5 separate regions of the Homo sapiens genome follow, and all the other regions are linked to region 2. Evidence: fine-mapped QTL for protein levels in blood plasma. A gene starts in region 2. Each other region holds a variant in brackets. All regions are shown on one strand. Distances are from middle to middle. Region 1 overlaps VPS37C (VPS37C subunit of ESCRT-I). Region 2 holds the start of CBLIF (cobalamin binding intrinsic factor). Region 3 overlaps OSBP (oxysterol binding protein). Region 4 holds the start of LOC124902678 (a long non-coding RNA gene). Region 5 overlaps GLYATL1-AS1 (GLYATL1 antisense RNA 1).

Evidence for each region. PIP is the chance, under the fine-mapping model, that this variant and not a neighbour inherited with it causes the effect. The UK Biobank Pharma Proteomics Project read protein levels with antibody pairs (Olink). The fine-mapping took linkage between variants from a reference panel, not from the people measured, so its PIPs are less certain.
Region 1: its variant is fine-mapped to the plasma level of the CBLIF protein (UK Biobank, PIP above 0.99).
Region 3: its variant is fine-mapped to the plasma level of the CBLIF protein (UK Biobank, PIP above 0.99).
Region 4: its variant is fine-mapped to the plasma level of the CBLIF protein (UK Biobank, PIP above 0.99).
Region 5: its variant is fine-mapped to the plasma level of the CBLIF protein (UK Biobank, PIP above 0.99).

The regions. Positions count from the first base shown.
Region 1 is chr11:61,143,325-61,150,001 of GRCh38, forward strand. All of the region lies in intron 1 of VPS37C (VPS37C subunit of ESCRT-I), which reads right to left. Among named protein-coding and RNA genes, the nearest start is that of VPS37C, 15 kb to the right of the region's middle. The variant C/G (reference allele first, on the strand shown) is at 3,337.
Region 2 is chr11:59,841,662-59,848,338 of GRCh38, forward strand. It overlaps CBLIF (cobalamin binding intrinsic factor), which reads right to left and starts at 3,838. Exons shown (of 9, transcript NM_005142.3): 1 at 3,714-3,838; 2 at 2,218-2,394; 3 at 1,367-1,480; 4 at 782-922. The coding sequence starts at 3,792.
Region 3 is chr11:59,602,629-59,607,628 of GRCh38, forward strand. The region is part of intron 3 of OSBP (oxysterol binding protein); the gene reads right to left. Among named protein-coding and RNA genes, the nearest start is that of MIR3162, 10 kb to the left of the region's middle. The variant T/C (reference allele first, on the strand shown) is at 2,027.
Region 4 is chr11:61,173,295-61,179,971 of GRCh38, forward strand. LOC124902678 (a long non-coding RNA gene) reads left to right here and starts at 1,545. Exons shown (of 4, transcript XR_007062691.1): 1 at 1,545-2,873. The variant G/A (reference allele first, on the strand shown) is at 2,955.
Region 5 is chr11:59,037,322-59,043,998 of GRCh38, forward strand. The region is part of intron 3 of GLYATL1-AS1 (GLYATL1 antisense RNA 1); the gene reads right to left. It also overlaps the pseudogene GLYATL1P4. Among named protein-coding and RNA genes, the nearest start is that of GLYATL1-AS1, 18 kb to the right of the region's middle. The variant G/T (reference allele first, on the strand shown) is at 2,689.

The sequences.
Region 1 (6,677 bases), 1.3 Mb after region 2:
CTCCAGACCTAGAACTCTAGAATCTCCAGGATTCTTAATTTTTTTTTTTTTTTTTTTTTTTTTTTTTTTTTTAGATGGAGTCTTGTGCTGTCGCCCAGGCTGGAGTGCAGTGGCACAATCTCAGCTCACTGTAACCTCTACCTCCCGGGTTCAAGCAATTCTCCTGCCTCAGCCTCTTGAGGATTACAGGTGCCTGACACTAGCCTGGCTAATTTTTGTATTTTTAGTAGAGATGGGGGTTTCACCATGTTGGCCAAGCTGATCTTGAACTCCTGACCTCAAGTGATCCACCTGCCTCAGTGCTGGGATTACAGGTGTGAGCCATTGTGCCCAGCCAATTCTTTTTTTTTTCTGAGATGGAGTTTCGCTCTTGTTGCCCAGGCTGGAGTGCAATGGCACAATCTTGGCTCACGGCAACCTCCGCTTCCCGGGTTCAAGTGATTCTCCGGCCTCAGCCTCCCCAGTAGCTGGGATTACAGGCGTGCAACACCATGCCCAGCTAATTTTGTATTTTTAGTAGAGACAGAGTTTCTCCATGTTGGTCAGGCTGGTCTCGAACTCCTGACCTCAAATGATCCACCTGCCTCAGCCTCCCAAAGTGCTGGGATTACAGGCGTGAGCGACCACGCCCGGCCGATTCTTAATTTTTTTTTTTTTTTTTTGAGACGGAGTCTGGCTCTGTCGCCCAGGCTGGGGTGCAATGGCGCGATCTTGGCTCACTGCAAGCTCCGCCTTCCTGGGTTGACGCCATTCTCCTGCCTCAGCCTCCCGAGTAGCTGGGACTACAGGAGCCACCACCACGCCCGGCTAATTTTTTTATATTTTTAGTAGACACGGGGTTTCACCGTGCTAGCCAGAATGGTCTCGATCTCCTGACCTGGTGATCCACCCACCTCGGCCTCCCAAAGTGCTGGGATTACAGGCGTGAGCCACCGCACCCAGCCAATTCTTAATTTTTAATGAAGTTTTCATTTTAACTAGGCTACCTGGGTCTGACTAGTTTGGCATCTATTATCTTATTTTCCCCTTTCCCCAACACTCTGGGGGAACTCAGGGGGAGGCAACCCCATCTGACAGAGGAAAAGCAAAGACCCCAGGGGAGGAAGGGCCTTGTCACCCAGTCACCGCAGAAGCAGGAGGAGAACGCAGGCAGTGTTTTTTCTATAGGGTGAGCCCCCCCAGGACCCCAAGGGCACTTCCTAAGGCTTGGCTCTGTGTGGGCACGGCGGGACAGGTGACACCCAGGTGCACAAGACAGGGGTCTTCATGCCAGGATTTAGGCTTCAGATTTGCAGTGACGTGACAATGCACATCACAGAGGGAGGCAGCGTCACATACGGTCAAGACCAAGAGGCGGAACGTCACGGCCACAGCTCATGAGACGAGTGCCCAAGCTCTGGCCAGCTCGGCAGGGGAGATTCATGTGAAAACAGTGCCTGCCACGATGTCAAGCTTCTAACGGGCCAGGAGTCCCCCCTACACGGAGGCTGAGTCTGGGAAGGAGACCGGAGGCCTCCACCAAGCTGCTACCTCCTCTGCTCATGGGGCTCCCATTTCAGAAGGCACTGCTGGCATGTGCCAGACAAACATGTCCCAAATGAGGAGTGCTCAGGACCTTACTCCCAACTTTGCCAAATAGCTGGAGGCCAGATGTTCGTTTTGGGACTCAACTTTCCTTATCTGTAAAATGGGCAAACAAACCCTTACATGGCTCTTTTCTTCTGAAATCAAAGCCCTCTGTACTATCACACTGGTCTTTAATTGAAACAATAAATAAAGAGATCAAAGCCCTCTGTAAACTCTCCCGTTAATTTACATAACCTCTCTAGTATGTAAAGCCAGCATGAGCTTAAGTGCCTCCTATTTCAGAGATAAAATGAATCCCAGAAAGAAGCAGGAAGGACACTGCCCCACTGTGCGGGTGTTTTCATCTCACCAACATCTTTGCCCCACCTGCTCGGCAGGCCCATCAGAGGGGTGCAGTGAGGATAAGGTGTTTAGCCATAAGGCCCGAGATCCAGAGATTAGGAGCCCACGCAAGCACGCCAATTATCCCATCCCTCCCTGTCCCTGCCTCCGGGTTGGGGACGCCCACCTCACCGCCCTCATACAGCATCTCAGGCTGGGCAGGCAAGTGCCACCTTGTGGGGTTTACCACAGCATCACCCACCCCTGGAAATGACAGGTCCCTTTCTCTCACCAATGCCACAGCCATCACCTGCTCCTCAGAGCCATCAGCGAGGCTGGAAGCAGCAAGCACTTCCCTGGGTCCCTAATATGGAGAAGGGAGAACAGGAAACTCTTTTGCCCACAGCCCACAGAGCTGCTAAGAAGGTGCCCTTGAAGCTTGGTCATCCACTGCTGGTGGTGTCTGACTCCATCACCCAACGCAAGGGACAAGTCCAAAGTGACACTTCTCAGAGTGACCCCAGCCACCGCATATGTCTCAAAGTAGAGAACTAGGGGGTTCCTGAGATGTCCTTCGGGGACCCAGAGTCCATGGGCTTTTGTTTCTGGAGGGTGTGACGAGTCCAACTACCTGGGCCCCTCAGTACCAGAGCCCTGGCCCAGAGCCCCTCCCCCTGCCAAGATGCCCGGGAGGATGCAGCACTGCTCTAGTGACCCCCAGGGTTTGCTGCGCACGAGTAGGGAGTTGTTGAGGGTGAGAATAAATCGACCCCTTGAAGACAAGGAGAATGTCTCACTCATCTTCGTCAACCCAAGCCCAGCAGACTGGCTGTCAGATAGCTCACAATAACGTTTGCCCAAAAAGTGATGGAGACAGGAAGGAGAGAACAAGTCACTGAAGACGTGGGGACAGAGAACGGGCATTCTTCCCCTTACCCCCGCCTGCTCGCATTTCTCCACTCCCTTAATGAATCAATACTTATGAAGCAATTGCATTTGCCAAGAATACTGTGAGACCCACATCAAAGGAGGAAGGATAAATGGGGGCAGCAGGATGTGAGCAAATATTTGGGGGGTTCTTACTATGAGCCAGACATGGCATTCACAGGTAAGAGCTGATCCTAACTCTCAAGTAACTCAGTTTCATTTTAAAAAGTCAAAAATACTCACAATAATTCATCATGAATACAGATGAGAGCAGCGTAACAGAGGCAGAGACCAACAGAGTGAGGAGGAGAGATGGGCCGCTCTGTGGGCCTGGAAAGCTTGGCCACAGGGGCCTGCGCATGCCATGCCAGGAGCAGCACAGCCCAGGCGGGAGCCACTGCAGATCCAAGGGGCTGGGAGGGGAGGAGGAGGGAGGGCTGCGGGGCAGGCGGCTGCACAGGTTCACAGGTACAGCAGAAAACACCTTTTCTGGGGTGATAT[C/G]ATCAACTCGAAAGTGATCTGGCTGGGAGGGAACAAGGTGAGAAAGCTATGCGTGAGCCAGTCTGCGTTCCTTGCACAGAGAAGAGGAACAGTGCCCCTGGTTCCTCACTACCAGCCCCTGAGAAGGAAGAACACTTGCTTTTGTTTTTTCCTTTTGCTTTTTAAAGTTGTCTCTCTGCAGTTTTCACCCCCACCAGAGGTCCCAACCCCAGTGGCCTACAAAGGCCAGGCTGGTAGTAGGAGGCCAAGCGACAGGCAGAGTGTGTATGGCTGGAAAGCGGCCCTGGTGATTCTAGGCCCCTCCTGCAGCCTTGCCAGCTTTCCCAGACCCATCAGCTCTCCAAAGGGAAGCCAGAAATCTACATCTAGGTGCATCTTCCCATTTTTAAATTTCAACTCAAAGTTGTGAGAAACTGGGTGGGCCATCAAAACCCACAATTCAGGTGTGACCTGAATTGATGCCATATCCTCTATGGGAGACAAGTGCAAGGGTACAGATCACAGAAAAGGGGGTGGGGCAGAGGGGAGAGGTGATAAAGACATCCCACAAGAATCCTGGAGCCCCACCATTTGCCACAATGCACTGAAAGGAGGTTGGGGTGGGGGCACAGGCTGAACTCGCTGGAGCTTTGCTATCAGAACCAAGGAAGCAGCATTTCTGGGTGCAGCCGGACCAGCCAACTGGCACCTGTTGCTTTGATCTCTGGTCTCAACTTCTTTCCATTACTTTATATCTTGACTAAATCGATCCCACAGGTCTTGAGCACAGGGTACACGATCTGGTAAAAGATAGCACAGGGCCAGTGGATTTACGCCAAAGGCAGCGCCACGTCCCCAGCAAGGAGGCCACAGAACTTCCTAGCAGACCGGGGTGGAAGGGGAACTCTGGGGAGGGTTCAAACTTGGGGCAGCCTTCCAGATCTGTTTTTATCGGGGAAAAAAAAAGTCATGCAATGATGGTTTTCCTCAACAAGCTAATCAGCTCAAAAACAAATCGTTTCCACTGATCAGAGATCCTTTCCAAGGATAACCTTCAACAAAAAAAAAAAAGCTGGACTGCAAAATGCAGCATTTTCTAGACAGTGAGGGCACTGAGATGAGAGTGTGGCATGCCAGCCCTAGAGACAACTTGCACTGCCCCTCACCCCTTGCCGCTAAGTGGTTCATGCCAACTCTCCCCCCAGATTGTGTGTCTGGACAGAATTCTGTCCTGTGCAGACATGGAATTTGAAAACAGATGCCTTGAGTTTGTGCTTTGGCTCCACAGCTCTTTAACTGTGTGACCTTAATCAAGTCCTTTAACCTTGGTTTCCTTAATGGGGCACCATGATGATAATCCCACCTTAGGGGTTGCTGTGTGGCTCAGATAAGCGAACAGCCCAAAAAGAGCTTTGCAAACTCCTGAGCACTGAACAAATATAAATTATTCCACCTCCTGGCGTTACTCCTGCAACCCCTGGGCTGCAATCTTGTGTCAAGTGAAATGGCTGCTGAGATCGTGCAGGAGGATTCCAGCCTCCACCAGCTCCAGCACCTGGGAGCTGAAGCACGGCTCCCAGCACTCCCCTCGCCTTACCAGACAACACTTACTTGCCAGTGACCTCTAGCCCGAAATCACACTGCAAGAAGAGCTGTGACGTCCCTTGGTTTCTTACAAATTCCCCACATCCACCTATGGTACCAGAAGAAGCTGTTACCAGGGCAACTTGCAAAGTCCAACCTGCACATGTTAAAAAGGAACTGGCCCCATCTTACCCCGTATGTCAGAAACACCTGCTGTTGCCTTAGAAACCTTCCTAATCATGCTGCTGAATGAGGAAATATTTGCAGGCCTAATCTGGTTTTCTTTTCCCGGAATGATTCCAGCTGTGCGTCCAAGTACCAGACTCTTTTGTTTCCTGACTTCCCACAGGAGGTTAAAAAAAAAAAAAAAAAAATCAAATCATCAAGTTCTTCTCACCTGATCCAAAGCAGCACTGAACTGACTTTCCCCACAAGTGGAAAAGTTACAGTGTAAACCATGGAGAGGAAGGCGTTTTTAGTTTTCATTTTTTTGCGTTTTTAGTTTTCTTTTTTTTCTTTTAAGAGATGAAGGACTCGCTCTGTCACTCTGTTGCCCAGGCTAGAGTGCAGGGACGCAAAAGTAGCTCACTTCACAGCCTCAAACTCTTGGGCTCAAGCAATCCACCTCACTTCCCAAGTAGCTGGGAGTCCAGGCCTGTGCCACTGCCCCCAGATGGCTTTCATCCTTTCTAAGGAATTGCTGGGGTTGGGGCTGGGTTGGGGTTGGAGATTCCTCCCACCCACCAGGGATAAATAGTTAAGACTACGTGAAGAGGGGCCAGGCGCGGTGGCTCACGCCTGTAATCCCAGCACTTTGGGAGGCCAAGGCGGGCGGACCACGAGGTCAGGAGATCAAGACCATCCTAGCTAACATGGTGAAACCCCATATTTATCTACTAAAAATACAAAAAAGTTAGCTGGGCGTGGTGGCACACGCCTGTAGTCCCAGCTACTCAGGAGGCTGAGGCAGGAGAATGGCGTGAACCCAGGAGACGGAGCTTGCAGTGAGCCGAGATCGCGCCACTGCATCCCAGCCTCGGCGACAGAGCGAGACTCCATCTCAAAGTAAACAAACAAACAAAAAAGACTAAGTGAAGAGGCTTTGGAGATAAAAACTCCTAGATTTCAATCCCATCCTGACCTTTCACTAGCTATATCACCATGGGCACATTATTCAGCCTTTCTCTGTTTCTCATTTGTAAAATGGGGCTAATACTACCAACATCATGGGGTTGTAAGGATTAAATGAGAATTAAACAAGACCACCAAGCAGCAGGTCTGGCACCAGGCAGTATTAATTCCCACTCCCTCACAACTTATTGTTAGGAAATGCTGCCTGTCAACTGTGCCAGGCGGCCAGCTAGGTCTAGAACCAGAGGACTCTGAAAGAGCTGATCCTGGACGGAAGCAAAGGATGTGGCTCCAAACAAGCTCCAAACCAATCTAGACAAGAGTCCTCAAACATAAGCATACATAGGGGGAATGTACAATCTCTCATAGGGAAATTGCTTCATGAAGGAAACTGTCATCTTTACATAAATATTTACATAACAACTGAATGCTCCTCAATCCACTGAAAAACTCCATCTGACCCCCCTTTGTCCAGAGGCAGGGCCGTCAAGTGAGAAGACTCAAGAATAATAAGCCCATTCACTGTGCCAAATGGTGGGAGGCACCCAGAGTGGCAGAAGACTTCAGGAAATTAAGCCACTCAGCCGGCTGGGAGGCTCTATCAGCACGCGGCAGGCTGCAGAGCCCAGCACTCACACCCTGCCCCC
Region 2 (6,677 bases):
CTGTTCTTAACCCCCAGGGAGGATCCTAGAGCAGTGGTTCACCTGTTTGTCTGACAGAAACTGAAACAAGAGAGGTTGCTGATGGGGCATGCATAAGGGAGTGAAAACCTGAGATAATACTATTGCTTAGAGAGTTGGCAGAGGAGAAAAGGTGATCATGAATGCGGGCTGTGACAGTGGCCCCCACAGAGAAGGATCATTATCCATAGAAGGGGACAGAAGGAGGACATGATGTTGTAGAGGGAAAAGCTTCTATTCACAAGCAGCCATATGCTTGCAGAACAAAGACGCAAGGTGGTCCCCGAGTTGCCATGAAGGGAAATATCACGAGTTAGGGTTCCGAGAGTAGCTGTTTAATGGAGAGAGGATATTTGGATGTAATGAGGAGAAGCATCGAAAAGAATGGAGTGTGGGAGCATCAGTAGTGATTAAAGAGAGGATGCAGAGGAGAACTGAAGCAAGACATTCATATTTAATTTGGGAAGAACTTCTGACTTGAATGGCATTACTATTGTTCCCAGCGGAGATTCTGTAGCTGCCAGACATATCAAGTATTATCAATTGTCCTTGTTTCTACATAATACTACCCCCTCTTCCTTCACTTACTCCTCAATTCACCTGCCCAACAAACATCTGGTAAATATCTCCCATCCACAGGCACGTTCACATCCTTAGCTCCTCCTCCATGGGACGCTCTCCTTTGTCACTTCCCTGCCAGCTCCACCATTCAGTTCACGATGCCTCTGATGTTCCCAGCTCGGGGTAGTGGTGACCTACTCACCTACATTGAAGGGAGAGGAGTTGGCCAGCAGGGTCTTGGCAAAGCGGACGGCTATCGGCAAGGTCGCCTCAGAGTTCTTCTGGCACAGTGCCAAGATCGCTAGACTGGGCCCATAGAAGGCTGATGCTTCAGCGTTGGGGCCTCCGAAGGGGATAGAGAACCTTCATCAGACTCACAGTCACCACGATGAGGACATTTGCAAAGAAGGAAAAGCCAAGCCTTTGAAAAGGAAATTGCTAGAAAACCTGCCCCCAAAGAGAGACACAGCATAGGCAAAGAGCAACTTCAGTGTTTTTCAAAAGAATGTCATCAGGCATCTGCAAAGAATAAAAGGGATGACTCTGTGTCTTTAGACAGGTGATGGCTGGACAAGCTTGTGTCCTTGGGATCATGACCTTTTCTAGTTCATTTTGGATTGGAAATGAATCTTTCTGGTCTGGATTATCAGAAGGACCAGAGTGAAGGATACATTGTCTCTTCCCTAACTTGCCTTTCTCTCCACCCCCACCCTTTTCCTTTCTGGGTTTAAAATTCTTAGGTAAAACCATATGCCTGACTCTTTTCTCCCTTCCAGTCAGGTCTTACTGGAAGGTGCCCAGTTCTCCATTTGTCTTTGTAGAATGGATACTTTATCCCCAGGGTCTCGGCAGGAGGAGGTGAGGGCCATGATGGTGAGGCCGAGCTGCCCAATGGTTAGATCTGCAGAGAAGAGAACACAACGGTTAGACAGAGACATCCTCAGGGGACAGCTCTCCAGGAGCCAGTGATGAGTTCTCTGCTTTTTATCTAGAGCATTTTGACTTTTTAATAATATGAGCAGTTCTTTGATCTGTCTTTCCAAAGAAAAAAATATGGAAGAATACGTAAGGGAATATTTAATCTAGTGGCCTCTGTGTAACTTGATGACTCTAGTATTTGGTATTTGAGAATCCCTGGTATTTGATTAGAAAAGCAGCAAAATACTCATATAGATTTATATACAGAAATTTACAGTTGCAAAATAATTTAAACTTTATCTAACTTGAGCCTGCAGGCAGCTCCTGGGAGATAGGCAGAACAGAGATTTTATTATTATTATCATTGCTATTAGTAGTAGTAGGGTTATTGTTACTACAATCATCTGCAAGGTGAGGCTGAGCAGTATCCAGTGACTTGTCTCAGATCCCAGAGTTATGACGTGGCAGAGCCAGAACCAGAAGGCTGCTCTTTCGACGTCTAGTCCAGAGCTCTCCCTGCTTTACTGACCTCCTCCATGAATGCTCTGACTTCACACATGTTTCTTTCCAGGTACCTTCCAGGTATGTAAGGAAAGGTGTTTGGGTAGTTTATTTACAGTCAGAGGCAGCATTGGGGTGGGAAGGACGCTGAGTTGGAATCTGGAGGTGGTATGTGATGTGTGAGATTCAGGGAGAGTGCGAGCGGCTCAGATGTCTCACCGTTGTTGTCGCTGGACATGAGCTGGTAAGTCAGGAGCTTCTGGGCCTTCAAGTTGTAGGCTCCGGCCAGATTCATGGCAATCAGGATGCTGGGGTTTGGGTAGGCTGATGAAGTCACCGAGTTCTCCATGAGTACTTGTATTCCATTGACCAAGGGCTCCTGTGCTGAGGGAACGGCTGAGAAGAGGAAAGCCATTTACTCACCTTCTAACCCTCATTCCTTCTCAAAAACATTATCCCCGTGTCTTTGATGCTTTTTCTTTCTTTCTTTTTTTTTTGAGACAGTGTTACTCTTGTTGCCCAGGCTAGAGTGCAATGGCACGATCTCGGCTCACTGCAAACTCTGCCTCCCAGGTTCAAGTGATTCTCCTGCCTCAGCTTCCTGAGTAGCTGGGATTACAGGTGTGCACCACCACGCCAGGCTAATTTTTGTATTTTTAGTAGAGATGGGGTTTCACCATGTTGGCCAGGGTAGTCTCGAATTTCTGACCTCAGGTAATCCACCCTTCTTGGCCTCCCAAAGTGCTGGGATTACAGGCGTGAGCCACCTCGCCTGGCCATCTTTGATGCCTTTTAGGAGAACACTTGATTAGCATTAGTGTCCTAAGTCACTAAAGAGAAATGGAGAAAATGGTGAGATTTTACTTTTGAGGACAATTAGTTTCTACATCTTCTCAAATAATCCATATCCTTAAGAAAGTGATTTTTAAATTTAGTAACTTCAAGCAATATGGCTCATGACATTTCTCATAGTTTCTATCACTTTCCTGGAAATCACTGATTTCCTTGCATTCATTTTTTTCCTTACTCTTTCATGAAGAGTATTAAAGATTTGGGATATAATTTATCCTCAGTGAGTACCAAAATCTCTCACTAGTATGTAGTGGTGTCTGGTCACAATAGCCACTGAGTGTCTGTCTTTGTACCATCAACCATTATTCCTGCAGTAGTACTTCCATCTCTATTATTTTTATTTATTGATTTTTTGAGACAGGGTGCTGCTGTGTCATCTAGGCTGGAGTGCAGTGGTGTGATTATAGCTCACTGCAGCCTCGACCTCCTGGGCTCAAGCGATTCTCCTACCTCAGCTTTCTGAGTAGCTGGGACCACAGGTGCATGCCACTGCGCCCAGCTAATTTTTTATTTTTATTTATTTATTTTTTTTGTAGAGATGGAGTCTCACCATGTTGCCCAGGCTGGTCTTGAACTCTTGGGCTCAAGCAATCCTCCTGCTTCAGTCTCCCAAAGTGCTGGGATTACAGGTGTGAGCCACTGCACCTGGCCCCATCTCTCTTAATAAAAAACATATAGACTTGTCTCTCAAAGAACTTATGCTATTAAGTCAGGAAGGATGAACAGCACACAATCACACTCAGACTTACCCATTTTGGAATTCCTATAGTGATTGCTATTTTCAACCACTCAGTGTCAGAGGTCACAGCCCCTTCCCCAGGGCAACTGCTTCCCTGACCTCCTTGGAAAAACATCATACTCACAGCATGAACTCTGGGTCTGGGTACTAGTCCCAGCTGTAGCCCAGAGAAGGCTCAGGAGGTAGAGGGCAAACCAGGCCATCTCACTCTCTCGTCTATGTCTCTCATCCACAGGTACCGCGATTTGCAAGTGGAATATTTCTTTACCTTCTCTTATATGTGCTTCCCTTTGTTAAATAATCTGTCCCCAACCCAGCCTCTCCTAACTGCCCCTGTGCTGACCTCTCCTTTCCTGATACAAGTAAGTAAATTTTCATTTGCTTATCTAAGTTTACCGACTATAGACCCTCCAAGGTGTCTGAAGGTGACTTCTAGGTTGCACAGTCATATGAGAAACCTGGGGCTGGGTATGCAGTGAAGGCAATGTTGAGAAAATGTCCTTTACCAAAGGCCTGGGTCAGACATCAGGAAGTTTGGATAATGTGCTAGTATCAACAAGACCTCTTCTAGCCCTTATTGTATCCAATCAGTTACCAGGCTGCTTTTTAGTAACTACTTCACTGGGATTTAGGCCATTCATAGGCATCAGCTCATTTTATGATCCTAGACACCTGCTTTACAACATGTCCTTTTAGGCTCTCAGGCAGGGATCTGCCAGGTGACATCTGGCTTTGTGAAATTAATGATGTCTACCTGGACCTGGATTCTAGCCTAGACTCTTTGAAGTTGTTTGACTTTAGGCAAGAAATGGACCTCGGTTTCCCAGAAATGGTTTTGTTTGATTTCTCTTTCCTTATCTGGAGATAAAAGCCATCTCAAACACCCAAAGCTTTCAGATATTATCTTTTAAAGTAAGTAATTAGAAAATGTGAGATCCATTAAGAATACATATTTCAGATGTGTAGCTACATTATAATGCAAATTATACTTCTTTATAAGGGAGAACTGAAAATGGTATGTTGAAATTATAAAGAAAGGAGTTTTGTTTGTTTTTTTCCTGCATGTAAAGTAGCTCATTTTAAGGGGATATTCTCCAGTGGCGCCCATCTTAGCATAAAAGTCAAAGCCCTTTTCATGACCTATAAGACCTTAGAAGATCTGGCTCCTGGTTTCCTTTCTGACCTCAGCTCCAGGCGTTTTCCCCTTTGCTCACACCGCTCCCATCACACAGAACTTCTTGTGCCCCTTGAACACATCAGCTACCTTTGCACATGATGTCCCCCTCAGCCCAGGACCCTCTTCTTTTAAATAGCCTCATGGTGGCTTCCTCACATCCTTCATGTCTCTGCTCAGAGGTAAGCTTTTAGAGACGCCTTCCCAGGCCACCCTACATAAGATCCTACATCCTCACCTCCACTGACACCCCTCATGCCCCTCGCCTGCTATAACTCATTGCCCTCTGTCGCACTAAGTGTGTGGTTGTTTATCGTTTGTTTATCTCCCTACTAGAATGTCTGCTCCACGAGGGAGGGGCTTTGTCTCTTTGGCTCACTGCTCTATCCTTAGCCCTTACAACACTACCTAGCTCACAGTAGAAATAAAATACTTTTTGAATGAGTGAATTAATGAGCAAATGTAAGACATGGGTAATAAAGCATTTTTTCCCCCTTGGGAAACATGGGTGAGTTTTGTGAGATGAGAGCACAGGGTACATACTGGGGTGTGCTGGACAACTTCTAACATGGCCCTGTGTTTTCACCTCCCGGTATTCATGCCTTGTGTAGTCCTCTTCCCTAGAGTGTGGGCTGGCCTGGGGCCACATTCTATTATAATGAATATAATGCAGCAAAGGTGATGGGATGTGGTTGCAAAAGACCGATTTCCCTCTTGCTTGCCTTCTCTCTCTTGCCCTTCCTGCTCTCATGAAGGCAGCTGCTAAGTGTGAGCTGCCTTATGGAGAAGCCCACATATGGCCCCTGAGAGTAGCCTCCAGCCGATATTCAGGGAGAAAAGAACCCTTCCCCAGTGAGCTTTGAGATGAAGGCAGCCCCAGCTGACATCTTGATTGCAGCCCTGGGAGAGACCCTCCTAAGCCAGAGGACCCATGTAAACCCTCCCTGGACTCCTGACCCACAGAAACTGTGGGATAATAAATGTTGTCTTAGGCCCCTAAGTTTTAAAGTCACTTGTTATGCAGCAATATATATCCAATACATGGTACATGGTGGAAGATGAGGCTGGAAAGACAGTTGGCATCTACTTGGTGGACAGCCTTGCATGCTGTGTGAAGGAGTAGGAGGCAGAATAATGGCACTGCCCACACACCGCCAAATGCCCATGCCCTAATCCCTGGAACTTGTGAACATGTTACGTGGGTTATATGGCCAGGAAGAATTAAAGATGCACATGGAATTAAGGTGGCTAATGAGCTGACTTTAAGAGAGGAAGGTTAGCTTGGATCATCTGGGTGGGCTCAATGTCATCACAGAGGTCCTTGTTAGTGGCAGAGGAAGGCAAGAGCGTTAGAATCAGAAAAGCAAATGTGATGTTAGAGGCAGAAGTCAGAATGATGCAATTGCTGGCTTTGTAGGTGGACAGGGGCCATGAGCCATGCAACGTGGGCAGCCTCCAGAAGCTGGAAAAGGCAAGGAAATGGATTCTTCTTCACAAGCTCTGTTACTAGGGGAGCCCTACGGAAATAGCTGGGAGGGCTTCTTATTTTCTTAAACTGTTGTTTTCCCTTAGCCTTTTTTTTTTTTTTAAGATTGTCCCTGTTCCTTTTTTTTCTTTTTTTTTTAATTATACTTTAAGTTTTAGGGTACATGTGCACAATGTGCAGGTTAGTTACATGTGTATACATGTGCCATGCTGGCGTGCTGCACCCGTTAACTCATCATTTAGCATTAGGTATATCTCCTAATGCTATCCCTCCCCCATCCCCCCACCCCACAACAGTCCCCAGAGTGTGATGTTCCCCTTCCTGTGTCCATGTGTTCTCATTGTTCAATTCCCATCTATGAGTGAGAACATGCGGTGTTTGGTTTTTTGTCCTTGCAATAGTTTACTGAGAATGATGATTTCCAATTT
Region 3 (5,000 bases), 240 kb before region 2:
ACTGCTCACCATTTCTTGCACACAGATTTCTGGCACAGTCTGGAGTAGAGTGCAGATCACAGCTCACTGCAGCCTCAACCTCGTCGGGCTCAGGTGATCCTCCTACCTTAGCCCCGCTGAGCAGTTGGGACTACAGTTATGTACCACCATGGCCGACTAATTTTTGTATTTTGTAGAGATGGAATTTTGCCTTGTTACCCAGACTAGTATCGAACTCACGGACTCAAGTGATCTACCCATCTCAGCCTCCCAAAGTGTTGGGATTACAGGCATGAGCCACTGTGCCCAGTCGTGGACACAGATTTCTTTCAGGCCTACATACCTCAGCATATGCTATTCACTCTACCTAGAATGTCCATCCCTATCCCCTGTTTCTAAGAAAGGGCAAATCTTTCTTTAAGATCTATGGCAAATGCTACTTTGTGACATCTCCCCACCAGTCTCATAAGCAGCCAGTCTCTTCTCTACATTTCCACTGCATTTTGCACAAACTTCTATTTTACACATGCACAGCAGTATCGTGACTGATTTTCTATCTCTCCAGATGGATCACATGCAATTTAAAAACACATTTTTGAGTTTATTCATATATAGATCTCCAGCTCCTAATTTAGTTGCTCTGTACATAATAGGGATCTGATAAAGTTTGCTTAATAAATAAATAAAGGAAGGAGGCAAGCAACGTAAGCTTAAAAATCTATTCCCTGTTACAGAGAAGCTAAAAGGTAAACAGGATATTTACTCCCATGGTTTCAACCACTGCCTATAGGCTAATGGCTACTAAATCACTAATTCTAGCCCAGCACTTACTGAGATTCAGAATAGAATATCCAACTCCCTATTCAACGGCTCAAAGTAACTTCAAAATTAATGCATCCCAAAGTGAACTCATCACCTTCAGTTTTTTTTTTTTTTTTTTTTTTTTTGAGACATGTTCTTGCTCTGTCACCCAGGTTGGAGTGCAGTGGCACAATCATGGCTCACTGCAGCCTCAACCTCACAAGTTCAAGTGATCCTCCTACCTGAGCCTCCCAAGTAGCTGGGACTACAGGCATGAGCCACAATGCCCAGCTAATTTTTGTAGTTAATATAGAGGTGGGATTCTGCCATGTTGCTCAGGCTAATCTTTCAACTCCCAGGCTCAAGTGATCCACACCTGGGACTACAGGTGTGAGGCACCACACCCAGCCTCATCAGTTTCCTATGTTGTCTCTGCTTTTCCCTTTGATGTTCCCCAATCCAACTTTCAGGGCCCTCCCAGTTGTCCAAGCCAGAAAATTAAGGGGCATCCTTCTCTTACTTTTGCTTCCTTCCTCACAGCCAGTTATCAAGTCCTATTGATTCTTCTTTAATATTTTAAAAATCTGTACATGTCTTTCCATCCTCCTTACTCAGAAACAGTACAGAGTGCATACTCTGGAGTTGGACCGGTAGGGCTCAAATCACAGATCCATCCCACTATCTAGCTGTACAAATAAGGGTAAGTTATTTAACCTCTCTGTGCCTCATCTTCCTTTTCCATAAACAAATAGTAACAATAGAGTAACTACCTCAAAGAGTCGTTGTTTTACATGTAAGCACTTAGAACCACATTAGGCTCACAATAAACATTCAATAAGGTGTTAGTTATTATAATTATAAGCTGGGCATGGTAGCTCACGTATGTAAAACACTTTGGAAGGCCAAGACAGAAGGAGTACCTGAGACCAGGAGTTTAAGATCAGCCTGGACAACATACAAGACCCCATCTCTATATAAAAATTAAAAAAAGATATAAAAATTTAAAAAAGAGGCTGGGTATAGTGGCTTACACCTTTAATCCCAGCACTTTGGGAGGCCGAGGCAGGCAAATCACCTGAGGTTAGGTGTCCGAGACCAGCCTGGCCAACATAGTGAAACCCCATCTCTACTAAAAATACAAAAATTAGCCAGGCATGGTGATGTGCGCCTGTAGTCCCAGCTACTTGGGAGGATGAGGTAGAAGAATTGCTTGAACCCAAGAGGCGGAGGTTACAGTGAACCAAGA[T/C]TGTGCACTGCACTCCAGCCTGGGTGACAAAGCAAGACTCTGTCTCAAAAAAAAAGTTGAGTGTAGCAGCTCTGCCTGTAGTCCCAGCTACTCAGAAGGCTGAGGAGTGAGACTCACTTGAGCCTGGGTGCTCAAGGCTGCAGTGAGCTATGATGGTGCCACTGCACTCCAGCCTGGGTGAGAGAGCAATACTCTGTCTCTAAAAAAAAAAGAAAAAGGCCGAGCACAGTGGCTCATGTCTGTAATCCCAGCACTTTGGGAGGCCTAGGCAGGTGGATCACAAGGTCAGGAGTTCAAGACCAGCCTGGCCAAGATGGTGAAACCCCATCTCCACTAAAAACACAAAAAATTAGTCGGGTGTGGTAGTGTGCGCCTGTAGTCCCAGCTACTTGGGAGGCTGAGGCAGAAGAACTGCTTGAACCCGGGAGGCGGAGGTTACAGTGAGCTGAGATCACACTATTGCACTCCAGCCTGGGTGACAAAGCGAGACTCTGTCTCAAAAAAAAAGAAAAAAATTATGACTGCATCCAAATTGGTCTCATCTTCTAATCCACTACTACCAAGCTTAGTTGGTATGATCTGCAGCCCTTTCTCTCCCCCACAATTAACTCCTCCCAAGCCTCATGCTAGCTGCTTCCTTGCTCGACTAACAGTCAATTACCAGCAGTTCCCAGACTTTGGGGAAAGGGATAGATCTGAATATCCCATACCACTACCTGGATCAAAGCTTCTCCCTCATTCCCTTTTATTTCATTTATTTATTTATTTATTTTTGAGACAGAGTCTCGCTCTGTCACCCAGGCTACAGAGTGCAGTGCTACGATCTCAGCTCACTGCAACCTCCGCCTCCTGGGTTCAAGTGATTCTCATGCCTCAGTCACCATGTCTGGCTAATTTTTTTATTTCTTTTAGTAGAGATGGGGGTTTCACCATGTTGGCCAGGCTGGTCTCGAACTCCTGACCTCAGGTGATCCACTCGACTCGGCCTCACAAAGTGCTGGGATTACAGGTGTGAGGCACCATGCCTGGCCTCATTCCCTTTTAGTAATACTGACTGTAATTAAAATTTGCCAGAGACAATCATATGTCAGGCACTTTGCCGAGCACTTCACATCAATTATCTGACAAAAGCCTTTCAACAAGCCTTTGAAGTATCTGCTAGTATCATTACCATTTACAGATAAGGAATTGATGTCACAGAGGATGCAGGTTGCCCCAAGTTATACACATAGGTCATAGAGGCAGTTGGACGGGATGCAGGTTGCCTCAAGTTACAGAGATAGGTCATGAAGGCAGTTGGACTCCAGGCCCCAAGCTCTAGCTTGCCTTTCTTCATAGGAAGACTCTCACTGCTCCTTCAGAATTTAGTTGAGGAAATTAGAGAAATTTCCTAGTCTGAGCCAAATACTTCCAAAGTGCTATACCATAGCAGCCTGTGCTCATTTCTATCAAGTCACTCAACATAGTCCATAATGATCCCTTTAATTCTCCATCCCTCACTAAATAGTGATCTTCCTGAGGACACGGACCATATCTGCCCTCAGCAATATCCACTAGCACAGTTCGTGGAACACAGCTCATGCTCAATAGATGGCAGATGAATATACTAAAAGTGTCAAATTTAATTCTCTGATCAGATTCACTTTGACAGTTAGAAAAGCTCTATCCTAAGCAGTCAAGAAACTGAAACGGCCATAAAAAAAAAACAATATCATGTCCTTTGCAGCAACATGAATGCAACTGGAGGCCAATATCCTAACTGAATTAATGCAGACACAGAAAAAAAAAAAAAACACATCTTCTCACTTATAAGTGGGAGCTAAACATTGGGTACACACCAACACAAAGACAGAAACAATAAACACTAGGGATTCCAAAAGTGGGGAGGAAGAGAACCAAAGGTTGAAAAACTACCTGTTGCGTACTACGTTCACTACTTGGGCAATGGGATAATTAGAAGCCCAAACCTCAGCATCACGCAATATACCTATGTAACAAACCTGCACACGTGCCCCTTGAATCAAAAATTAAATTAATTTTTAAAGAAGTAATTGAGTGAAACATATTCTTCCTTTGATATAACTTTGCCCGTTTAGAGCTGTGATGCTCTAGCATGTTAATTTTTAACACGTGTATTATACTTAAGGCCTTGCTAGTATCATACTAAAAGGTACAAAGGAAACAACACAGGGATAAAAAATGTATTTTAAGCAATAACTGGCTAGGAAAAGGGCACAGGCAGTGCAGCAAGAGAGTAAAGAATGAAAACAGAACTCATCTCTGACTTCCAAGAGATCATTCCCTTTAACACAAACTCTGGACACTTAGAACTTAGGGAAGAATTTCCCCAAGGAACAAAGATGAGTACATTTTCAAGAGAAAAATTGAAACTAAAGGTTTAGGTTTATAAAGGGATGCTTTACTTAGCAAAATTTTTACATCAAGGTAAAAAAAAAATTATGGATTGGGGTGTTCCTCTGATTTGGATAAAAGGTGGCATTCACTCTCAGGAGACCATTGTGCCGAGTTGTTTTATTTAAAAAGTATACGTATTTACTATTTAATTGACTGTATGACTTAATGAGGTTTTCCTGATCACAAGGGGACTGGAAAACCAGGCACACAGTCTCCAGGAATACACGACCAGACATCAGAAACACAAGCACCCTGACTGGCTGACTGGTCAGTCCTAGGAGATAATCTTCCTGCAGTCCCTAAGTGGAGAATGTAATTTGTCTTTTTACTTTGTGTGAATCACAGCACTGAAGATAGTGTTAAACATATCAGAAAAATGATGTTAAAATAAAGGTTATCCAACTATCTATTAAGTAAGAAAGGGGTTAAATGAGAAAAACGATACTTTCCCATGGTCATGGGAAAGTCTGGCACTAGAGAGGTAATTTCATCCCATTTAATTAGGAAAAAAAAAATCTACCCTACATAATTTCTCACAGAGTACTCTTCTCACTTATGA
Region 4 (6,677 bases), 1.3 Mb after region 2:
AGTTCTCTCATCCACTGAGACTCGGCTCAGTTGCCACCTCCACTAGGGAGACTTCCTAACTTTCCACCTAAGGCAGCATTGGGCATCCTCTTTGCAGGATGCCCAGGGCATGCCTCTATTGCAGTGCTGCCACATTACCTTTCTAAATGTTTTGTTTCCTGGACTTCAGGGCCACTGCTAGCCCATTTGGAGCCTTCGTTAGATTCAGAAAAAGCTGGCCTCCTCCAGGTGGCTGCAGCTGCCCAGGTGCATGGCTCAGCAGTGAATCATGACCTGACTTCAGGTCTTCTTCCCCCATGGCCTGACACCTGTGTTCTGGGCACAAATTGTACAATGTCCTCCATGGCCCTGTCTGCAAGGCTATTCATAAACAGCGAGCAATTTATGAACTTGGCTTCGAGCACCCTCAAGTGTTCACTGAAAGAATGAATATTTCCTAATAGATGAGACCTGTCCTCAATTATCCCTTCCTCCTCCCACCCGTCCTCTCCTCCTTTTGTTCTGCCTCATTTCCTGACCTCCCAAGCCCAGTACTAATGAGCTGCAGAGTGGCCAAGAGCCTAGAATTTGTAGTCAGACAGACCTAGTTCAAATCTTGACTCTACCACTTACTTGCCATAAATCCTTGAGGAAGTTACTTAGCTCCTCTAAGCCTCAGTTTCCTCATCTATAAATTGGAGACATTATCAGCTTCACAGGGCGCCCACAAAGAGCACATGGGAAAAGGCGTTCAATAGGTGTCTCCAGGGCTCCTCCAAGTCAGGCTCTACAGCTGGGAGACCAGAGTGGCCATGGAAGGCATCACTGAGGAGGGAACATTGAGATGATGGCTGAATAGCCATCCACGCAGAAAGCTGGGAGAAGAACCTTCTGGACAGGGAGAACAGGAATTGCAAAGGCCCAAGGTAACCAAGTTCAATAAAAGGCTACTTTTCCATCTCCAGTCTTCCGTCCACACCTGAACACACCATCGTCAACCAGGCCATCGAGGCCACAAGTTACACACCATGACCTCATCACACACTTGATTTGTTGACTCGGAGCAAGTTACCAGCAATGAATTATCAACCCCTTTCCCAGAATGGCAAGCCCTGGGGCTATGTGCAAACTGAGGCGGGAAAATAAGAGGTGTCAATAGAGCTGAGTTTGCTCTGGGCCCAGGGCCATGTAGATAAGCTGGTTATCATCACCAGCTCCAGCTCCAAGAGGCACAGTGGGTGCCACTGCCACCACCAGGAACCCTGGGGTTTGCTTGTCCTCCTGCTGGAACGCCCAGCACACCCACAGGGCCAAGAGGAAAGTAAACGCTCTTGACTAATCTCCCCCAGTGCTATCACAGGGGCCCCCCGAAGGTGGCTGCTCCTTTGGCAGAGTCTGGTTCTTCCATTCCTTCTTGGAAGATGGCCATGGGGCATCAGCACCTGACCATGATGTCTGGTGGCTAGAATTCAACTTGAAATCAGTTGAGACCCAAGTAATGCCCAGGCTTTCCCGGTGGGTTTTCCTTGCTCCATTCTTTGTCTCCATACAGTGAAGCCCCCAGAAAGCATCAGTTGTTCATCCCTCATCAGGGCCTTCAAAGTTCCAAGGTCTTTCTTGAGCCTCAGAGAGGCAACAAGTCCTTGAATGCACCCTTGTCTGACCCTCCCAACTCAGCCAAGAATCCCCTAAAGATGAAATAGAACATTGGGTTTCAATTGTCGAAGTCTGACCAGAAGATGTTCCTTACTCTAAATACAGGCCAGTGTCACACCAACTTACAAGGGTCAGTGTGTTATGAACAAGGAGGGGAAGCTGTGGGGCTGCCAAGCTGGGCACAAGTCAAGCACTAACCGGCACCACTGCCTCCTGCTTCCTGGTGCCACTCCAGCCGGGGCTGCCCCCACTGTGTCTGGCAGCTTCCAATATTGCTTTCCTGCTGCCATAAGATGGCAGGTCTGGCAACAGAACTGGAGCCGGACTTAAGGAGAAAGAGGAAGGAACTTCAGCTCTGGCACCTGCAGACCCCCGAAAGTGACCTACGGAAGCTGGCAGCAGGGACTGCAATTGAGCATTCTCTCACCTTTCCCTTCTCAGAGCTCCCCAAGCCTATGCCCAGGTGGGAAGAGGATTACCTGAGAGCCAGAAGCCCCGGGTCCCAGCACTTCACTAACCTACCTTGCATCCCTTCTGTAAATTATACACCCCAGCTCTCAGTTTCCCCATCTCCGGGATAACAGACTGGACTTGTCCAAGAATAGCAATCATTCCCAATCCAGTGCCGACGCTGGTTGCTAGAACACGTGGCTGAAGGGATTGTATGTTGCTCGGGATTCTGGGGCCACATCCAGTGGTAGGGGGTGCTGTGGTTCGCTGGCAATATCTGCCTTGGACTCAGAATGGAGCATGGTAGACCAGGTGCCACGTCACTGACATGCAGGAGCTAAAGGACCTTTGCACTCCTGCCCAATGGAACATTCCAGCACTTGGATTCTGTGGGATGAGATCTGACAGCCATAAGGCAGAAGTTACCAACTGGGAAGCTCATGGATTCTTCAACAGAAACTCGAGTCAGGCTGATGAATTACCTTTACTAAAGGAATGAATAACAATAAAAAAAATTCTAGGTCCAAGACGTGCCAAGAAAGGTTAGATATATTGGACAATATTTTAAAAGGAGAGATGTTTTGGGTGACCTGCTATTTTGCTGTCCAGCTTGAGATGATGCCAATGGCCACAGAGTAATAAAAGGGCCACTGAATATGGCCTCGTTCCCATGGCTCACCAGCAGTAAGCATCTCTACCACCTCCATGTCTGGAGCAGGAATTCCAGCAGGAAGGACGCAGCCTCCAGAACCATTTGACCAGAAGATCCAAGTGCGACTGGACTGCTGGTAGGTACCACAGAAATCCTAGCTCTCTCCTCCCCACAGCTGGCTGTTCTCTGTTTAAACTTGACTCACTGCATATGTCCC[G/A]CTGCCACAGGAGGCCCTTTTCCAATATCTTGTTCCGCTCTGCAGACCCTCTGTTCACGCCCCTGGGCTTCTCTCCCATCCCAGTCTGTCTTGCATCCTGTGCAAGCTGCCCTCCTCTCTGTTATTTAGTTATGAATCCCTCCTCCCTTCCCTTCAAAACACCTCCACTGCTTCAGTCTTTGGCTCCCTCCCTATCCGGGCCCCTGCCCCTTCCCTACAGATGATACTAAAGCAGACAAAGCCAGGGAGGGAGACCCCCATTTTGTTGTTTCTAAAAATGTTCTCATCCTTTCCACTTCCAGGCCCTGATACGGCTCCTCAAAGTCTCAAGCTGATGATCAGACAACCTCGAGGGGTAGTGGTGGGAGACAGCAGGACGAGGGCCGGAGCCGTGGGCAGGGGAGGCTCAGGAGCAACTCAGCCAGTGTGGGGCCCACCCAGGTCGGCCTTGCTTGGGACCCTTGGGATACCACTAAAGACAGAAACTTCAAAATGGAAATGTTTTCAACTTATTACAAAAAAGGTTCAAACATAAAAGTAAAAATGAATAGTGTCATGGACCTCATATTCCATCACTCAGCATCAAGAATTACACTGTTTCTGCAAATCCTTGTTTTATATACACACTCCCCCCTTTTTTTTTTCTTTGTCTCACTTTGTTGCCCAGGCTGGAGTGGACTGGCGTGATCCCGGCTCACTGCAGCCTCCGCCTCCCAGGTTCAAGCGATTCTCATGCCTCAGCCTCCTGAGTAGCTGGGATTACAGGCATGCATCAACACACCCAGATAATTTTTGTATTTTTCGTAGAGACAGAGTTTCACCATGTTGGCCAGGCTGGTCTCAAACTCCTGGCCTCAAGCAATCTACCTGCCTCAGCCTCCCAAAGTGCTGGGATTATAGGCATGAGCTACCGCACCTGGCGACACTCTTACTTTTTAAAAATTTTATTCTTTATATATTTATATTTGCTGTAATATTTTAAGGCATACAGCTTACCATTTCACTGTAAATACTTTATTGTACATTTCTAGGAGATAAGGGTCATATTATATATATATATATATATACACAGCTGTAATTAATATATATATTCAAATATATATATTTATAGCGGCAATGCTCTCTTATTCCAAACAAAACTACCAACTTTTCTTTTAATTACCAATTTTAATATCACCTAATAACCAGTCCATGTTCAAATTTATTTGATTCTCTCAAAAATGCCTTTTAACAGTTGATATATTCAGATCCAGGATCAAGATCTTGAGGTTATCCGCATGTGTTGCATTTGGTGGCTGTTTCTTAAGACTTTTAATGGGCTGGGCGCGGTGGCTTACACCTGTAATCCAAGCACTTTGGGAGGCTGAGGCGGGCAGACCACAAGGTCAGGAGTTTGAGACCAGCCTGGCCAACATGGTAAAACCCATCTCTACTGAAAATACAAAAATTAGCCAGGCGTGGTGGCAGGCACCAGTAATCCCAGCTACTTGGGAGGCTGAGGCAGGAGCATCGCTTGAACCCAGGAGGCGGAGGTTGCAGTGAGCCAAGATTGCACCACTGCACTCCAGCCTGGGCAACAAGAGCGAAACTCCATCTCAAAAAAAAAAAAAGACTTTTAGTAGATAGCAGTCCCCCTTTATATGCCATTAATTTATTTATAAAGTAAGTGTATGGGCCTGTTAGAATGGCCAAAATCCAGAACACTGAGAACACCAAATCCTGGTGAGAATGTGGAGCAACAGAAACTCTCATTCGTTGCTGGTAGGAATGCAAAATGGCACAGACACTTTAAAAGACAGCTTGGCAGTTTGTTATAAAATTAAACATACTCTTGCCATATTACCCATCAGTCACACTGCTTGGATTTACTCAGAGGAGTTGAAAATTTATACCCACACGAAAACCTGCATATGACTATTTATAGCAGCTTTATAATTGTCAAAGCTTGGAAGAAACTAAGATGCCCTTCAGTGAGTGAATAAGAAGATAAACTGTACTCCATCCAGACAATGGATTATTATTAAGCACTAAAAAGAAATGAGCAATCGGCTGGGCACGGTGGCTCACACCTGTAATCCCAGCACTTTGGGAGACCGAGTCAGGTGGATCCATCAAGCTCAGGAGTTCAAGACCAGCCTGGGCAACATGGCGAAACCCCATCTCTACAAAAAATATATATAGAGAAAAATTAGCTAGGCATACTGGTGTGTACCTGTAGTCCCAGCTACTTGGGAGACTGAAGTGGGAGGATGGCTTGAGCCTCGGAGGCAGAGGTTGCAGTGAGCCAAGATGGTACCATTGCACTCCAGCCTGGGCAACAGAATGAGACCCTGTCTCAAAAAATAAAAACGAAAATAAAAATTAAAAAAAGAAAGAAATGAGCTACCAAGCCATGAAAAGGAGGAAACTTAAGTGCATATCACTAAGTGAAAAAAGCCAGTCTTAAAAATGTATATGTGAATACATAATAGTTGTACACATTTATGGGGTACACGGGATATTTTGATTTCAAGTATGCAGTGCGTAATGATCAAATCTGGGTAATTAGTCTATCTAGCTTGGCTGCTGCGAATAGTGCTGCGATAAAAACAGGAGTGCAGATATCTCGTCAATAGACTAATTTCCTTTCTTTCTTTTTCTTTTTTTTTTTTTTTTAGACGGAGTTTTGCTCTTGTTGCCTAGGCTGGAGTGCAATGGCACGATCTCGGCTCATGGCAACCTCCACCTCCCGGGTTCAAGCAATTCTCCTGCCTCGGCCTCCTGAGCAGCTGGGACTACAGGCATGTGCCACCATGCCCGGCTAATTTTTTTTGTATTATTAGTAGAGACGGGGTTTCTCCATGTTGGTCAGGCTGATCTCGAACTCCCAACCTCAGGTGATCCACCCACCTCAGACTCCAAAGTGCTGGGATTACAGGCGTGAGCCACCGTGCCCGGCCGACTAATTTCCTTTCTTTCGGATATATATACCCAGCAGTGGGATTGCTGGATCATATGATAGTTCTATCTTTAGTTTTTTGAAAAATCTGCATTCTGTTTTCCACAGAGGCTGTACTCATTTAAATTTCCACCAACAGTGAATGAGCATTCCTCTTTCTTGGTCTCCTCACCAGCATCTGTTATCTTCTGTCTTTTTGATGACAGCTATTTAACTGGGGTGAGATGATAACTCACTGTGATTTTAATTGGCATTTCCCTGATCATTACGAATGTTGAGTCTTTTTTTCTCCACCCGTTGTCCATTTGTATCCTCCTTTGAGAAGTGTCTATTCAGATCTTTTGCCCATTTTTAATCAAATTATTTGTTTCTTTGCTATTAAGTTGTTTGAGTTCTTTATATATTCCTGGTTGTTATTCCCTTGTTGGATGAATAGTTTGTAAATATTTTCTCCCATTCTGTGGGTTGTCTCTTCACCTTGTTGATTGTTTTCTTTGCTGTGCACAACCTTTTGGCTTGATTTACATCCCATTTGTTAATTTTTGCTTTGTTTGCCTGTGTTTTTAAGGTCTTATCCAAGAAATCTTTGCCCAGACCAATGTCCTGAAGCATTTCCCCAATGTTTTCTTCTAGTAGTTTCATAGTTTCAGGACTTACATTTAAGTATTTAATCCATTTTGATTTGAACTTTTTGCATGATCTAGTTTCATCATTGTTCTGCATAGCATACCCAGTTTTCCCAGTACCTGCAGTGCAATGGTGCAAGCTCGGCTCACTGCTACCTC
Region 5 (6,677 bases), 800 kb before region 2:
TATAAAAGAACTGAAATTCACCAGATGATTCCATCCAGATGATGGCACACCAGACCCCTCATACATTATGATTGCTTCCTTAGGTCTCCTGAGTTCCTGTTTTTCTACACATGGTTACTTTTCCTCCCTGCTATGTAAACTCATAATTTTAGCTGGTCAGGGAGATGGATTTGACACTGAACTACCATCTCCTCTCCTACAGCATCTGATTCAGCCTTCTCCCTTGGCAAGAATTGTTGATATGAATTGGTTTTCTGTGCAGTGAGCAGCTGGAGCTAGACCACACCCCTGGTGTTTCACTAACAGATTTTGATTCCCCAACCAGGAACACTTTGGCTCAGCTACCATGGGCGGGGAATCTCAAAGTCCTCCTAAGCAGCTGCTTACCCAATTTTGGCTAGAGATGAGTACCCTCTCTCTAGGGCCAGCCACAGCTGGCCCCAACCATGTTCCTGATTGCCTTGGGAGAACTGCCTTTGAAATTTGATATTTGCATCCAGATAGGTGACTCTCCTCTGTGGGCCCAGACAGAAAGATCTCCTCCTCACAGTTTGGGAAATTTTTAAAGGAATTTCCACTTGCAGGTTGAACAAGCCCAATTGATGAAGAGAGGGAAGTACCCTGACTATTTCAGTACGGACACTCTTAGGAGCTTGTTTGTCATTGTGTGTGTATCCAGGCAAGTGAGTGTCATTTGTGGGAACCAGACAGTGGGATCTGCTCCTCTCCATCTGAGAAATTCTGAAGGAATTTTTATTTCAGGTCGATTGAGCCCAACCAATGGAGAGAGGAAGCACCACAACTCTTTCACATCGTAGACTTTTGGGGCTTGTTTGATGCTGCAGCAGTTGGATTGTGTTTTAGTAATTGTTTGCATGTGTCTGATACAGTCATGGGAAATTCGAATTTGATAAACTGGTACTCTTTTGTGACACTGTTTGGCTCCAGTATAGTTTGGAATCTGGAGTTTGCTGTTGAATGGGAAAGTGGGATTTTGTGCTGCTGTTTTAAGCAGGGTCGGGCCAGGTTAATATGTGATGATCTCATGCGGTGCCGTTTTTGACCCCAGTGTTTTGGGAGTATAGGGAGTTTTGGCCTTTAAAAATCAAACTGCCACAGAAACTCATTTTATTTAAAATTTGTTTCACAGCCTTCCCTGGATTACCTATCAAGGCTAACAAAGTTCAGCCATGTGGACATGTTTGCAGACAGTTGAGACTGTATTACTATCTCATGGCTAGAGTTCCAAGGTAAAAGCTTTTGGATCTTTGTGTGTATATACATCTAGATGTGTTTATGTGTATGCACATGTATTACATTATATGTTGTGACTACCAAATTGGCTTATACATAAAAGAACACTCCTAGATTAAGTAAATAAGTCCAAAGTATTTTTTACATTCACGTTACTTAAGTAAATTTTTAAGAAGCTAGCATTAAAATTATTGTAAGATAAAAATAGAAATGTCTTCAGAATTGTCAGCATACATTTTTTCGGGGTTTTATGTTTGTCTCTGCTAGATATTTTGGGGCATCAGAGTGTGGCACAGAAAGTTATAAAACTATAACCAGTAGTTTGAGACCAGTCTGAAAAATGAAGACCCCCCCCCGCCCCACCATCTCTATAACATAAAAATAAGACAATTAGCCAGGCACATTGATTCATGCCTGCAGCTAGTCAGGAGACTGAGGTGAGAGGATGCTTGAGCCTGAAAGGTCAAGGTTGCAGTGACTCATGATCCAGCCACTGCACTCCAGCCTGGGTGACAGAGTGAGACCCTGTCAAAAAAGAAAAAGATAAGAGGCAGAGAATGACAATGGGGCACAGGAGCATTGCAGAGAAACTAGGGGAACAGTTGTAATTGTTAATACGATGGTCAGAGGAGGCCTCATTGAGCAAGTGGCTTTAAGGTGAAGATTTAAAGAGGGTAATAAGGTTTTCTATAGGTATAATGAGAAAACAGAATGCAAGCAGAAGAAAAAGGACAGCAAAGTGCCTGAAGCAGAGAAGGCAAAGAGATTGAAGTCAGGGACATGACTGGAGGGATGTCAGGGAGGTGACTGGATTCTAAGTCATGGAGAACTTAGAGGGCTGTTATAAGACTTTTATATATCTTTCTCTGAATGAGATTGGGAGTGACAGCAGGACTTGCACAACGAATAACAAAATGTGGCTTTTGTTTTAAAAGGAGTGTTCTGGTTTTACATAGAGAAAAGACTAAAGACATTCTCCATCCAGAAAAGACTGCCAAGAACTCTGAAGCATCTAAAAGTTTACAGGGGCACAGATGCAGAAATGCTGGCAGATGACACAAGCTTCCAGGTAAAGGCAGGATTTTATATGCCTTCAACAGGCAGAATGATTTATATGTTTGTGTCAGTCATCTTTGCTCCACAAGTCCTACAGAGGAAATACAGGAAGGCAGATTAATGTCACAAATTCAATAGATGTGTGTTGCAGCAAAACTGCCTTCTGCTTCAGAAGAAAGCAGTATCTCCAGCTTCCAAGCTGTACTCTTTACAAACATCCTTGAAAGGATAGGAGCAAAGGCTGTCAATGTCTCTGCTCCTAAGACATGCAGAAATGTGAGAGGCCATGAAGACTTTTCTCCCAACCAGAATGAGCAGAATGTCATAATGGATTGGATGTAAAGTGGGAGGGGAAAAGATACTTAAGAATAATTCCAA[G/T]AGTTTTTATTTGAATAGGTGAAAAGGTGGAGTTGCCATCAACTTAATTGAGAAAGACTACAGGTGAAGTAGGCTGGGTGGAGAGGGTGGATAAGGAGTTTGATCTGAGACATAATGAGTTTGAGATGGCTATTGGGTGGAATCCAAGAGATATCAAACAGGCTATTGGATACATATGTCTTGAGTTTGGAAAAGAGTTTTAATAGTAATATAAATGTATTAGTCATTGGCAAGCAGATTGATTTTAAAGCCATGGGAACAGATGTGATTACTAGGGAGTAAGTGTGGATACAAATGAAGGCCAATGATTGAACTCTAAAGTGATGCAAAATTAAGAAGTTGGGGAGAAAAGAAGGGTCCACAGAGGAGACTGAGAAATAACCAGTGAAGTTAAAGGAAAAGAAGAGAGTGTGTTTTCTCGGAAACCAAGTGAAGAAAGTCTTAAAGAATGATCTATTAAGAACAGAAGCAATAATTGACCACTGGATTTAATAACATAGAGATCACTGATGGATTTAAAAAATGTTTCAGTAAAATGGTAGCAGCAAAAACCCAGTTAGATAAGATTAGGGGGAGGATTGGAAATAGCATTTGTAGACAATCCTTTCAATGAATTTTGCTACAGAGTGTTAAAGCAAACTAAATATGGTCTGAGAAGGACTCTGTGCTTCATTTGAGCCCTTGTGGGTGTAGAGTAACCTAGCTTAATAGACAAAATTGAAAACCTAATTTAGGAGTCTGCACCTGTAACAATATTTGAATGCTGGCCAGTCCCAGCAGCCTTACATCACCACTCATAGACTGCTGAATGCTCAAACTGTGTTTAAATAAGGCAAACGCCCAGGTGACAGAAATCTCACTGTTTCTGTAACTCATTTCCGGTTCCTGGATGTCACTTTAACTTTTTTTCCCTATAAATTTGTTTTGACCACAAGGCACCCCTGGAAACTCTGTGAATCTGCTGTGATTCTGAAGGCTGCTGGATCGATGAATTGTTCATTGCTCAACTAATCTCCTTTAAATTTAAGTCAGCTGAAGTTTTTATTTTATCAGATTGTGTCAGAAGCAGAATCTGAAGTGGAGCTTCTAGTATCCCCAGGAGCACTGAGTAAACACAGAAGGTACCTGCGGGATCCACTTGTGTCCACTGATCTCTCAGAGCAGCTGAGGATCAAAGGTAAGCTCCCTCTTGCATTTTGGAGCTTCACACATTTGTGTTTTGAGCTCTCTGAGTTTCCTTGTGCAAATTTGTGATCCAAACTGGTTTTGGAGTTGCAACAGAAAATGGACTGGGTCTAGGAATGAATTTGATCTGGGAATTAACTGGCTTGGATCCACTTAGAGGCCACTAACAGTAGAGGCCACTAACAGCTGACTGGGTCATAAAGGAAGTGGTAGTAAGCAGTAATGTCGCAGCAGTCATAAAATTCGGCTTTGGGAAATTCACAGGGATTTTTGTGTTCTACCCATTTGTTTCATTTTTCTTGTGTACCTAGATAGGAAAATTCATTGGTTAAGTTAATCAAAAGAACCTGAGAGTAAAGTCAGTATTTTATGTAAAACTGGAATCCTTAATTTCTGAAAAACTGAGTTCTTTCTGGCTTATACATTAGGACTGGAAGGCAGAGAAGTCTTACACAAATGGCAAAATCTTACTAAAGATAACTTAGAGTGGAACATTCCAAATGAAAAACAATGCATTGAACTACATTTAAAAATGAGGGCTCTCAGTAAAGTCCCTTTTGGCTAAGAACCGGTTTGGCACTATAGAATGTCAACTGTTATACTCTTTGGCACATTTGTAAGAATTCCAAGTGTTAGGCCGGGCGCGGTGGCTCACGCCTGTAATCCCAGCACTTTGGGAGGCCGAGGCGGGTGGATCATGAGGTCAGGAGATCGAGACCATCCTGGCTAACAAGGTGAAACCCCGTCTCTACTAAAAATACAAAAAATTAGCCGGGCGCGGTGGCGGGCGCCTGTAGTCCCAGCTACTCGGGAGGCTGAGGCAGGAGAATGGCGTGAACCCGGGAAGCGGAGCTTGCAGTGAGCCGAGATTGCGCCACTGCAGTCCGCAGTCCGACCTGGGCGACAGAGCGAGACTCCGTCTCAAAAAAAAAAAAAAAAAAAAAAAAAAAAAGAATTCCAAGTGTTATTTCAAAGGAAATTTACAGATATGTTTCCAAATTTTCTATGCTTTTTTCTTATTTTTGTAATGAAACTGGGAAAAATTTCAAAATGGTTATAGATCTGAAATATTTGGCCCTAAGAAACTAAAGAAAATCTTTGCCAACTCCTGCTCTGAGGTTTCCAGTCACAACTGTTCTTAGATATTTCCTATTCCAGAAGAAAGAAGACTCTTCAGGCATCTGATGACCAAAATAAAAGAAACATTATGATGGTGGTGGTGGAGTGTTCTGCTACAGGCATGTGGGAGGCTCACAGAACTCTTAATATTCACTTTTAATTCATTCCACCAGAGAGGAAATGCATGGGTTTTGGATAGGACTCTGTCATTTATCCCTGTAAGAACTTGAGAAATTTATTTAGTCTCTCTAAGCTTTGGCGTATTCAAAATGAAGACGATACTAACAGTACCTACATCATGAGTGTTACTTGAATGGAGATGTGTAAAGTGCATTTTAATTTCATCTGGTCCTTTAACATTTTCCCTTCACTTCTCTTCAGAGTTTTTTCTTGAAGGGCTCGAGGACTGAAGCATCCCACAAAATGATTCTATTGAATAATTCTGAGCAGCTGCTGGCCCTATTCAAATCTTTAGCAAGGAGCATTCCTGAGTCCCTGAAGGTGAAGGAACAGTGGGAGGTTGGGGTATGGGAGTAGGGGTGTTGAGGATGAGAAAATAACAGGCCCAAGAATCTCGTCCTTCCTGACTTTGTGCAGAGGGTTGGAGCTGGGAAACAGGATGGGGTTGGGGACAAAGGAGGCATGTTAAGAGCTGCTGCTTCTCCTCGGCAACAGGCAACTAGGCCGACTCTGCAGATTTTATCACTCATTTGGAGAGGTGGTGAAGAATGGTGGCTACGAACATCGGTTTGGGGCCAGATTCAATAAATATGCATTGCAAGGCTGCCATTTTTTAGTCAGATATCATTGTGCCTGTGTCTTTAGCTTTCTATGCCTTTATCTTTGGTCTTTTCATTAATAAAATGGGAATAATATTAGTAGCCACCTATTAAAGTTGTTGTGGACACTGAATGAATCCATACAATATAAGTGCTAAGTGCATTGTCAAGTGCCCAGCTACTGCACAGTAGCTCTGTGGTATCACAAGGACACCTCCCTGGGAGTTCTGCCTGTTTGCTGGTGACTTCACGTCCATCAGTATGGTCCTGGAGATGCTGCTCATCACACTATCACCAACTTGGTCCCAGTGCTGTCTCCTGACTTCCATTTTTCTCTTCCTCTTCACATACAGACCCCCATCTCTGGGGATCTCAACCTCTCCTATTCCCTTTCATCCCTCCTTCAGGTGTATGGCTCTCTGTTTCACATCAATCACGGGAACCCCTTCAACATGGAGGTGTTGGTGGACTCCTGGCCCGGGTATCAGATGGTTATTATCCGACCTCAAAAACAGGTAGGCACACAGACAGGGACTGGTGGAGCCAGGCAGGTCCAAAGGGCCTGAGGAACTGTCCAATTCAGACACCATGGCTGCTTTCATAGGGTGAAAGGAAATGTGAGTATTTTAAAACACTCCTTCGTTAATGAGCAGCTTGCATGAATGCCACATGTTAACACTCTTCCCGTAAGCATAAGACTAATTTGGGAAAGGGGTTCAAGGGGGAAGGGGAGGAAAAGGACAAGGCTGACACTCACAGATTAAGGGCCCTTTGAGGTGGCAGGGGTCACCTGCAGGGGCTGAATGGAGGCCAATTTACAGGGAAAGTTGTGTGTCTGAGATATCAGAACAGTGATTTAGAAACAAAAACCAAGGCAGTAGTCTACCAGCAAAATTACCTCTCATG